Linked DNA regions of Homo sapiens. The protein of the gene in region 3 interacts with the protein of the main gene of each other region in a pairwise test. Each region holds a gene or a part of one and is shown on either strand. Other genes may lie near its edges. The genes, in order: EIF4ENIF1, CPSF7 and ALG13.

Region 1 (3,653 bases), on a different chromosome or scaffold from region 3:
TCCAGCCTGGGCGAAAAAGCGAAACTCCATCTCAAAGAAAAAAAAAAAAAAAAAGAAAGAAAGAAAAATACTGTCGAAGGCATGTTTCTTTACTGGAACAGATTAATTTTGAGTATGTTTATTTGCAATATCAGGTCTGGAGCAAGCCATCCTCTCTCCTGGACAGAACTCGGGGAATTACTTTGCTCCTATACCATTGGAAGACCATGCTGAAAATAAAGTGGATATTTTAGAAATGCTACAGAAAGCCAAAGTGGATTTGAAACCTCTTCTTTCCAGCCTTTCTGCAAATAAAGAAAAACTTAAAGAAAGCTGTAAGTGTTTATGAATATCTGTTTTAGATATCTGAAAAGGTCTAGATGTTCAGTCTTCAGGCAGTTGGGTCTAACATAACCTCTGTTTCATAAAAAGTCAAATATATATTGGGTTTTTGTTTAATGTTCTTTTTTAAAAACTCATTTCATCAAACAATACCACCTCTTTGAGAATCTCACAGTGGGTCATGAGCCCTATGAGAACTTTTCCTGTAAGTTCTTACCTAGGGTCTGGTTGTAATAATCCAGTGAATGTTGAAAACAAACTCCAGTGAATGTTTTATTCCTCCAGAGCATAACTTACCATTTCCTCACAAATCTGCCCTAGTCTTCCATGTTCTTGCTTAGGCTATAAATTCTCAACATAAAAACTTAGTGATATAATGACCACGGTGCAGGCAGCAATCTTGGCAATGTTGGGCTATCTGGGATTCTTGTCCCAGGTAACAAGTCTCCCAGAAGACTCATATCCTTCTGCAGGATGCACAGCAGGAGCTTGTCAAGTTTTAAAGAATAGCACTTCATAGTTGTGGTCCCCCAGTTTCTAGCATCTAAACATTTTAGGTTTAGTTTATGCCATCTCTTAGTACACAATTTGATTTTAAGTGTTATTAGTTTATTTTTGGTGTCAGTCTTTTCTGACAGTCTCATCTCAATTTTGAAATAAATTATTTTCATCTTATCTGTCATACTAGCCAAAGAGAATTCCTACCAGATATCTCTTTGCTTGATTTAACCTGGACGTTCTCAACTTCTCAGCACATTCAGGGGTTGTGCTTTCAGTGGAGGAGGTAGAAGCAGGTCTGAAGGGCTTGAAGGTTGACCAGCAAGTGAAGAATTCAACTCCCTTCATGGCAGAACACCTAGAAGAGACCTTGAGTGCCGTAACCAACAATCGACAACTGAAGAAAGACGGAGACATGACTGCGTTCAACAAGCTAGTGAGCACAATGAAGGCAAGTGGGACTTTGCCTTCTCAGCCCAAAGTCAGCGTAAGTATCTGACACAAACCCCCCACCCTTTTCTCCTTTTTTTTTCTTCTTTTTCCCACCACAATAAAAGGATTTTTAAAAAGGTATTCTGAGTAAGTTGGAAATTCTTTAGTAGTCATTTGGTCCTTGATGCTTTTGTGTGTTCCTTAATTATTGATATGCTATTTGTTACTGGAAAAAGCAGGCTTGTGGTTAATTTATATGTATTGTGGGTGACAGTATAAAGATTAAAAGATTCAGTCTTAATGGTAATGCCTGTATAACTTTAAGTCACTGCTAAAATGAGGTATAAAACTATCTTTTTGGATGAACTCCAGAGACAATTTTCTTGTTATTCAGCTACTTAAGTTCATATTCTTTACCATATTTGTATAGTAAAATCTTTATTCACATCTTCTAATTATTCCCAGATACCAGGGATTACCTGCATTCTTGCAGTCATACAAATCATTTGTAAAGTATCTAAGATGGGGCTGAGCACAGTGGCTCACGCGTGTAATCCCAGCACTTTGGGAGGCTGAGGCAGGCAGATCACCTGAAGTCAGGAGTTTGAGACCAGCCTGGCCAACATGGTGAAACGCCATCTCTACTAAAAATAAAAATTAGCCAGGCGTGGGGGCATGCGCCTGTAATCTCAGCTACTTGGGAGGCCAAGACAAGAGAACTGCTTGAACCTGGGAAATGAAAGTTGCAGTGAGCCGAGGTCACGCCACTGCACTCCAGGCTGGGCAACAGAGTGAGACTGTCTCCAAAAAAAAAAAAAAAAAGTAAGATGGGTTTGTCAGGATAATTACATTCTGTCAATTTACTAATGGAAAAAGTTGTGGCTCCAAGTTAAAAACAAAACTTGTAGGCATGAAGTTAGGTTACAAGGTGACACAACTGCATATCACCTTGTAAATGCAAATGTTTATAATATACTGGTTCTTTGTCCTAACAATTTTGAGAGGGTAGTTCTTACCCATAGCCTATGTGTTAATATCACTATCTCTTGATACAAACTAATGTGGAAGCAGGGTAGATATGAATAATAAAAACATAAACATGGACTTATTCTAGTTGCTAAGTTATAGCAAATTTACCAAATTGAGTTTTCTCTCTTTTTTTCCTGTTCCCTGCTTGCCTGGGAACTTACCAGTTAGCCAAGATGCAAGTAGCAATAGCTGTTTGAATCATTATGTCTTATACCAAAAGAAAGCAACTGACTTTTAGCATTCCTTATCTGACCAATAGGACAGACAGAGGTTCCATTATTCCTTAGTGCCAGGACTGACCTACACTTGAAAGGAGGCACCTCAGATAGGTAGACTGACTTCTTTGTATCTGACCACACCATACCAGTTGCAGGAGAATGTCCCTGTAAAACTGCTTTAGAGTTACTTTTATACAAAGAATTATTAGATACAAATGCTTTCAAATGAAGATCAGACTGAAAGATGGTAGACTATCCTATTTTCCTTTCTCGTTACATTTGTGTCTTGGTGATTGGGTGCTGACTGCAATGGTGTGGTTCATATCTTATAATTAGCTTCTTTCTTTTGGTGTGAGCAACTAAAAATATGGAAGGGGGCATTCAGCAGTTTACCTGATGTTTTTCCACATTTTATTGCAGATATGATTCTAGGATTTGATATTAACACAATTTACTCGAGTTGTAAGGGCAGTTGGTTTGATGTTGGGGTTTTAGCACTCAGAAGTGTATCTGGTTTTAGCTGAGCAAATGAGCCTCAAACACCTGCCAAACGGATGGATGACACATTCAAGTGGCTAGGCAAAGGCTAAGACAAACTCAGCTAGCAGGAAAGAATACAACAAGGAAAGTAATGGAGTAAGAATAGCAGGTGTTATCTCAAAATATTGCTCAATTTGCATGTTGTTAAGTCATGGTTTACTTTTTGAATTCGGTGTCTTTAATTACTACTGCTGTGTATGTTTTGTATACTATTTCTGATCTGCCTCCATCCATTTAGGTTGTCATATTGGTTCATCCAAAAATAATACATGCTGGTTCAATCTAAATTCTGTTTTAAATTATAGATTCTATCCTCCAAGTATAATAAGCCATGCAGTATAAAGTTGTCTATTTGTTTTTATTAGATGGAAGTAAATGACTCTTAAAGAGATTACTTATAAAATCATCTGCCTTTAGTCCCAGTTCCAAAATCAACAATAAAATACTTGGGTATTCTTGAGCTATTTGTCATGCCTAGACACTGCTTTGGACTTTGACAGCTCCATCTAGTGGAAGGGAAACTACACCAGAGAAAGCACTTCACACAGAGCTAAATGGGCATAGGGATGTCCTGAAATGCAGGAGGGGACTCCAGGTTGGATGCACAAAATGTAA
Region 2 (3,653 bases), on a different chromosome or scaffold from region 3:
TCTCAAAAACAAAATAGTCCTCTATACAAGGACCATCAACCAATAAGACCACCTTTTATAGTTTATATTCCTCCAGAATTTTTTCTATGCATATGACAATTTATATAATTTTTATTGTTTTTACAAAAACAGGATATGGTTTTGAAACTTGCTTGTTTCAATTAGTATATTCTGGACACCTATTATATCAACATATAACATAACATTTATTGATCCTTACTGTGTGCCTGGCACTGTGCTAAGGGCTTTACATGGATTACTTTGTTTACATACAGGTTTACCTCCTGCTTTTTTAATTGTTAATAGTACATTAATAATGTAATATTCTGTAGAACCAATGTTCCTTTATATAGCCAGACCCTATTGAAGATAATATAACAAACAACACTGGCCGGGCGCAGTGGCTCATGCCTGTAATCCCAGCACTTTGGGAGGCCAAGGCGGGCGGATCACAGGGTCAGGAGATCAAGACCATCCTGGCTAACACGGTGAAACTCCGTCTCTATTAATAATACAAAACATTAGCTGGGTGTGGTGGCAGGCGCCTGTAGTCCCAGCTACTCAGGAGGCTGAGGCAGGAGGATGGCGTGAACCTGGGAGGCGGAGCTTGCAGTGAGCCGAGATCACGGCCACTGCACTCCAGCCTGGGCAACAGAGTGAGACTGTCTCAAAAAAAAAAAAAATGAAAAAAAATAAACACTAAAACACTGTTAAACATACACACTTGTGAACAGAAGTAGAAAATTTTTAATAGAATTGCTGGCTCAAAAAATATGCACATTGTTTATTTTAATAGATGTCAAATAGCCCCTGGACAACAGTGTGTCAGTTTGTTCATCTGACAACATCTGTTAAATTCCGAACTGCTGGAATATAGGTGTCATCCAGTTTTACACTTGCAACATCTGCCTTGTCTCTTTTACCGCGGTTGTTTGGGACGGCTAGCTACTCTTGGTTTGTGTCTGCCTGAGTTCTCCTTTTGGTCCAGTTAGTTTACCATCTCTCCTCACCCTTGGCCTTTCTCCTTCATCCTTTATCAGGGGATTACAGTGACGCAATTGAGACGCTGCTCACAGCCATTGCGGTTATCAAACAGTCCCGGGTTGCCAATGATGAGCGTTGCCGTGTCCTCATCTCCTCTCTTAAGGACTGTCTTCATGGCATCGAAGCCAAGTCCTACAGTGTGGGTGCCAGTGGGAGCTCTTCCAGGTGAGTTGGTGATTGTGTCCTCACCTACCAGCCCCAAGCAGCACTCTTCCAGGGATAGGGAGTGGGGACAAATGGAGCCCAGGGAATCTGGGAAAGACCTGGCCGAAAGTCTGGACGTTAGCCTTCATGTCTTTTTGGGGAAGAAACTAATCAGATGCTTTCATTAATAAGTGTTGTAACATCTGGAATCTGGTGGGTGAGGCAGTGGGCTCATGTAGGAAAAAATACAGACAGATATTTTTAAGAACATGGGTTTTGGAGCCCTACAAGCTTGGATTGGAATCCCAGTTCTGCTGCTAACTATCTGTATGACCTTCTTGTGTATGGAAGTTAGTCAACTTTCCAAGCCTTATTTTTCTCATTTTCTAAAAAAGGGACACTGATAGTATTTATCTTACAGACCTGTTGTAAAGATTAGGTCAGATAATCCATACAAAATTATTAGCACTACACCTGATAAATTAGTTCTCAACAGATAAATTTACCTGTTAATCATCTTCCCAAAAAAGAGTAGTCCTCAAAGAGCTAAAATCCTCAGACAGCAGGCCCATGATAGAGTAATAGAGGAATAGTTTAGGCAAATATCAGAAGACACCAAAACACCACATTCTTGGAAAGAAAGTGGTAGGCCTTCTGAGTGAGGCTGAAGGATCTTTCTAATAGGAAAAGACATCGCTCCCGGGAAAGGTCACCTAGCCGGTCCCGGGAGAGCAGCAGGAGGCACCGGGATCTGCTTCATAATGAAGATCGGCATGATGATTATTTCCAAGAAAGGAACCGGGAGCATGAGAGACACCGGGATAGAGAACGGGACCGGCACCACTGAGAAAGGTGGGGAGAAGCCCCGTTCCTGGCTGCTGGGGGATTTTTTATTAAAAAAAGATTTATAGTGAAGAATTCTCTCTCTTTAAAGCAAAAGTAAATGCAGCAAGGGTAGGGGGAACTTCTGATTTACATAACTGGAATTTCAGGGCAGATTTTCTGCACATTTATGGGGAGTCTTACCCTGAGATTCAGCTGTTTCTGCTTGTTTCTTGACTGCCTTAACCTGGTATCTGAGTGAGAGTATGGTGTCTGCATTCAGGTACCAATTTGAATCCCAGTTTCTCCACTAATAATTGGCCATATTACTTTCTGTTCCACAGTTTCATTTGTAAATGAAGATAATAAAAGCAACTGTCCCAGTGACTTGCTAAGTTTTAGTGAGAGAGTCCATGTAGACCATTTAGCACTCATGGTACCTGTCACATAGTAAGTTCTCAATAATTAATAGCCATTGTTATTATCATTATGAACTTTCAATTTAAATTAGGAAAATTGACTAAGAATAGTAAAGCCATTGCCACTTAGTTTTCAAGCTGCAACATTAATGATTTTAAGAATTAGGCTTGGCATGATGGCTCACACCTATGATCCCAGCACTTTGGGAGGCCAAGATGGGAGGATTGTTTGAGCCAGGAGTTCGAGACCAGCCTGGGCAACATAGGGAGACCCTGTCTCTACAAAAAATACAAAAATTAGCCAAGTGTGGTGGTCCCAGCTACTTAGGAGGTGGAGGTGGGAGGGTTGCTTGAGCCTAGGAGGTCGAGGCTGCAGTGATCTGTGATTGCACCACTGCACTCTGGCCTGAGCGACAGTGAGACCTTGTCTGAAAAAAGGTAGGGAGGAGGGGCGGGTGGGTGCCTCATGCCTGTAATCCCATCACTTCAGTAATTTGGGAGGCAGAGGCTAGAGGATCACTTAAGCAGGAGTTTGAGACCAGCCTGAGCAACATAGTGAAACCCTATCTTTTTTTTTTTGAGACAGAGCCTCACTTTGCCGCCCACGCTGGAGTATAGTGGCATGATCTCAGCTCACTGCAACCCCCACTTCCCGGGTTCAAGCTATTCTGCCTCAGCCTCCCCAGCAGCTGGGGCTACAGGCGCGCGTCACCACGCCCGCTAATTTTTCTGTTTTTAGTAGAGGCGGGGCTTTACCATACTGGCCAGGTTGGCCTTGAACTCCTGACTTCGTGATCAGCCCACCTTGGCCTCCCAAAGTGCTAGGATTACAGGCGTGAGCCACCATGCCTGGCCGAGACCCCATCTCTTTAAAAAAAAAAAAACGGTTTATTTAAAAGATTTTGAAAATTAATATGCTTTAGTCAGAGAGGAGAAAGCTGATCTGAAAAATTATCTTTAACAGGTTTAGAGGCTTTGTGGTGGATAATTAACTTCAACGGAAGGGTTTTTTGCTTTTGGAAAAGACTTAGTGACAAGGTTGTTTATTTTGTTGTTGTGTTTTTTGTTTTGTTTTGTTTTGAGACAGAGTCTCACTCTTGCCCAGGCTGGAGTGCAGTGGCGCAATCTCGGCTCACTGCAAACTCCACCTCCCGGGTTCAAGCAATTCTCTGCCTCAGCCTCCCGAGTAGCTGGGATTACAAGCGCCCACCACCACGCCCGGCT
Region 3 (3,653 bases):
TAAAATTAGAGGAAGCAGGGGATGCTTACAAAGGATCAAGATATATTTCAAAGTTGTCTTTAGCCTCCTTATCTTACCCCTCCTACATTACAAACTGGCATTTAAAAAAACAGAAAAGATAGCAAAGGTTCAGCAATATAGACTATTCAGCAAAGGCATGCACCAAGCTAATAAGAGCAGGCAGCTTCTCTCTAGGACCTTGACAGGCCCGATGTTTTCACTAGAAAGCAGGGGAATTTTTTTGTTTCTTCTGGCAAACTACAGGACCATCCCATGTCTCAAACTCTGAAAACTCAGTACAGGGAAGATATGTTTTCCTTTTACCTGCTCCGAAATGGCCCGAAAGAGGCAAGAGGCATCCTTGGCAGTCAGCTTTCGAAACAGCCCTAAGCTGCCTAAATATTCATCCATTGATGCCTCATTCAAAGACTTCTGGCTGCAGTAGTTTTTCCATCCTTTATGCATTTTGTACAGGGTGGGGGTAAGAGGGAGAGGAAAAAAAGCGTGGCAAGAGGGAAAAAGCAGGGTGCAGGTAGGATGGGTAGCAGTAACAAGGGCTTGCTTATGCAGGTATCCGGAAAGCAGCCCAAAGTCTAGGCCTGAAAAGGCAGTTGAAGTCAGCGCTGCAGAATCTTGGCACTTCCCAGGAGCAGAAGCAATGGACTTGGCTTGCCCAGGACAAGTCAGGACCCTGTGAAAAGAAGAGGAAGAGCCAATCCTCCTAGGAATAGGGAACTCAGACTAAGCAGGAGACATGGGAGGGAGGGAGAAAGTACTTAGAGTTACCTCCTTGGGAAAGAGTGGAATTAACCCAATCTAACCCAATCAGACCAAGGTTGAGAAAAGTATGCATAAGCAGCTGAGCTTTGGGTCTAGAAGGAAACTGACTTTGCAGCTTAACTCGGGGCAACTGCTGCACGAGGCTGAAAAGGGACTACAATAAGGCTCAGGTGTGTAGGATGCAGCCTGGTCCACATTACATTGCTTGAAGAATTGCTTTAAGATCTCTAGCTGAATTTTCAACTACAGTCTCTCCCCAAATTCCCTGCTCCTTTCATAGTTTCAGGGAAACATGGAGGGACAGAATCTTCATGAACCTAGTTAACCAGTAAGCATTTGCATTAATACCTTTTTAATAAACACAAAAAAGGAGAAGGAACTTCCCTTAATCTATAGCGGCAGAGGGCACAGTTCAAGCTAAGTGCCAAGGCTATTACCTGGATATTTCAGATATAGGGTTGAAGTAATCTTCTCATTTAATTCTAGATAATAATCTCTGCCAGGATCACAGAAACTAAATCTTATTAGCCATGCTAGGGAAACTTTATACAATTCTTGACTAATGCCTCCAAACTACTATATGGCACCAATAAAAAAGAAAAATGCAAAAAAGTGTGTTTCTTTAAAAATGGAAATAAAAATTTAAATGGAAGCAGCATGAAAATATCCACAAATGGATAGACTACATTTGAAATGGTATGGTAGAGTATGAGATGAGTTGGACAATGAGAGATGTGTTTCAATGTTTTACTAGTGTACTTTTCCAGACACATTACTCTGGATTCTGAGAAAACCAAAGAAAATACTAAGTGCCAAAGGCAGGCCCAATTGCTTGTTTTATTTGTTCCTATTATCTATACTATCTAGTGTCTTTTATTTTTATTTAAATGCAAAAATCCAATTCCTTTCTTACATTTTTTAAGTATTAAAAATAAATAGGTCAAAAGCTGGCTTTAGAGAAGGCACAACATTAAGCTGCTTTCAAAATTGTTTTTTCCTTTTTTTTTTTTTTTTGTATCTGTGGATCCAGTAGTAATCATGACTGCTCCCTCTAGGAAAAGCAGCAATATTTTATAATTTGGGAATGAAATAATGTTTGACATGGTAAAAAAGGAATAAATCTTGACTTCCTTTGCATGCCAATTTGAAATTACCTTAATTTCTTTTTATTTTTTTAAAGTGTCTCACTCTGTCACCCAGGCTGAAGTGCAAGTGCAGTGGTGTGAACACAGCTGACTGCAGCCTCAACCTCCTGGGCTCAAACAATCCTCCTGCCTCAGCCTCCCAAGTAGCTAAGACCACAGGTGCATGCCACCACCACACCCAGCTAATTTTTCTATTTTCTGTAGAGATGGGGTCTTGCCACATTGCCCAGCTGGTCTCGAACTCCTGGGTTAAAGCTATCCTCCCACCTCAGCTTCACAATGTGCTGGAATTAGAGGCATGAGCCACCATGTCCAGCCACTAATTTCTTTTTTAAAGAAACTGTAACACTGGAGAAGTGATGCCTTTTGCAGAAGTTCTGAAACACACAGTTTGGGAAGAGAGATTGCCATCTTTCGTTAAGGTCACTAATTCACTGAGAAAAATTAATTAAGGGTTATAATTTGGTCAGGCACAATGGCTCACGCCTGTGATCCCAGCCCTTTGGGAGGCCAAGGCAGGCAGATCACGAGGTCAGGAGATCGAGACTATCCTGCCTAACACGGTGAAACCCCATCTCTACTAAAAATACAAAAAATTAGCTGGGCGTGGTGGTGGGCGCCTGTAGTCCCAGCTACTTGGGAGGCTGAGGCAGGAGAATGGCATGAGCCGAGATCACACCACTGCACTCCAGCCTGGGCAACAGAGCGAGACTCCGTCTCAAAAAAAAAAAAAGGGATTATAATTTAAAAGTTAATTTGTTTCCAGCATATTGTACTTGTAAAGAAAAACACAAATGCTTCACATCTGCTTTTTAAACTAAAAATAAGTATGATATATAAAACAATGCAATCTAAATGCTTCATTTTGAGGAAGGGAATGGGGGAAGGGAAAATCAGGAGAAGGAGGGAGAGAATCAGAAAAGTAATAGAAAACTGAAAAAAAAACACAAGTAGGGACAGGAAGACAAAAGGAGACAGAGCAAGAGAAAAGTTAACACACAGGGAAGCACACAGAAGTAGATCCACACAAATATGGTCCATTGATTTTTGACAAAGGTGCAAAATCAGTTGAATAGAAAAAAGATAGCATTTTCATCAAGTGGTGCCAGAACAATTGACCATCCACATGCAAAAAAAAGGATCCTCAACCTATACCTCACACCTTGTACTATAATTAACTCAAAGTGGTATAAATGTAAAATAAAACTTCAAAATTTTAAAAAATAAAACATAGGAGAAAATCTTTAAGATCCTGGGTTAGGCAGTGAGTTCTCAGATACATAATAGAAAAAAAAATTAACTCGATTTTATCAAAATTAAAAACTTTTGCTCTGCAAATGACATTGTTAGGAGAATGAAAATACAAGCCATAGACTGGAATAAAATATTTTTACATCACATATCTAACCAGAAAAACTTTGTACCAAAATATATAAAGAACTCTGAAAAGTCAACAATAAAAAAAATCCAATTTCTTAAATAGACAAAAGATTTGAATACACATTTCACCAAAGATATAAGAATGACTAATGAGCACATAAAAAGATATTCAAAATCATTGATCTTTAGGAAAATGAAAATTAGAACCACAATAAGACATCATTACATACCTACCAGGATAGCTGTAATAAACAATACAGACAGTAACAAGCATTAACAAGGATTGGAGAAACTGGTCCTAAGAAGATGGAAGCAAAAACTGTATGATTTCAAAAGGAATATGATTCC

The links.
Region 1: the proteins of ALG13 (region 3) and EIF4ENIF1 interact in a two-hybrid assay, tested with the Homo sapiens proteins (one large-scale study listed by BioGRID).
Region 2: the proteins of ALG13 (region 3) and CPSF7 interact in a two-hybrid assay, tested with the Homo sapiens proteins (one large-scale study listed by BioGRID).

Annotation. Positions count from the first base shown.
Region 1 is NC_000022.11:31,451,797-31,455,449, reverse strand, and holds part of EIF4ENIF1 (eukaryotic translation initiation factor 4E transporter), read left to right. Parts: intron 1-134; coding exon 135-314; intron 315-1,073; coding exon 1,074-1,306; intron 1,307-3,653. UniProt on the Homo sapiens protein: EIF4E-binding protein that regulates translation and stability of mRNAs in processing bodies (P-bodies). Plays a key role in P-bodies to coordinate the storage of translationally inactive mRNAs in the cytoplasm and prevent their degradation.
Region 2 is NC_000011.10:61,409,325-61,412,977, reverse strand, and holds part of CPSF7 (cleavage and polyadenylation specificity factor subunit 7), read left to right. Parts: intron 1-1,040; coding exon 1,041-1,209; intron 1,210-1,872; coding exon 1,873-2,035; 3' UTR 2,036-2,040; exon of another isoform or gene 2,041-2,397; intron 2,398-3,653.
Region 3 is NC_000023.11:111,705,065-111,708,717, reverse strand, and holds part of ALG13 (UDP-N-acetylglucosamine transferase subunit ALG13), read right to left. Parts: intron 692-3,653; coding exon 325-691; intron 1-324. UniProt on the Homo sapiens protein: Catalytic subunit of the UDP-N-acetylglucosamine transferase complex that operates in the biosynthetic pathway of dolichol-linked oligosaccharides, the glycan precursors employed in protein asparagine (N)-glycosylation.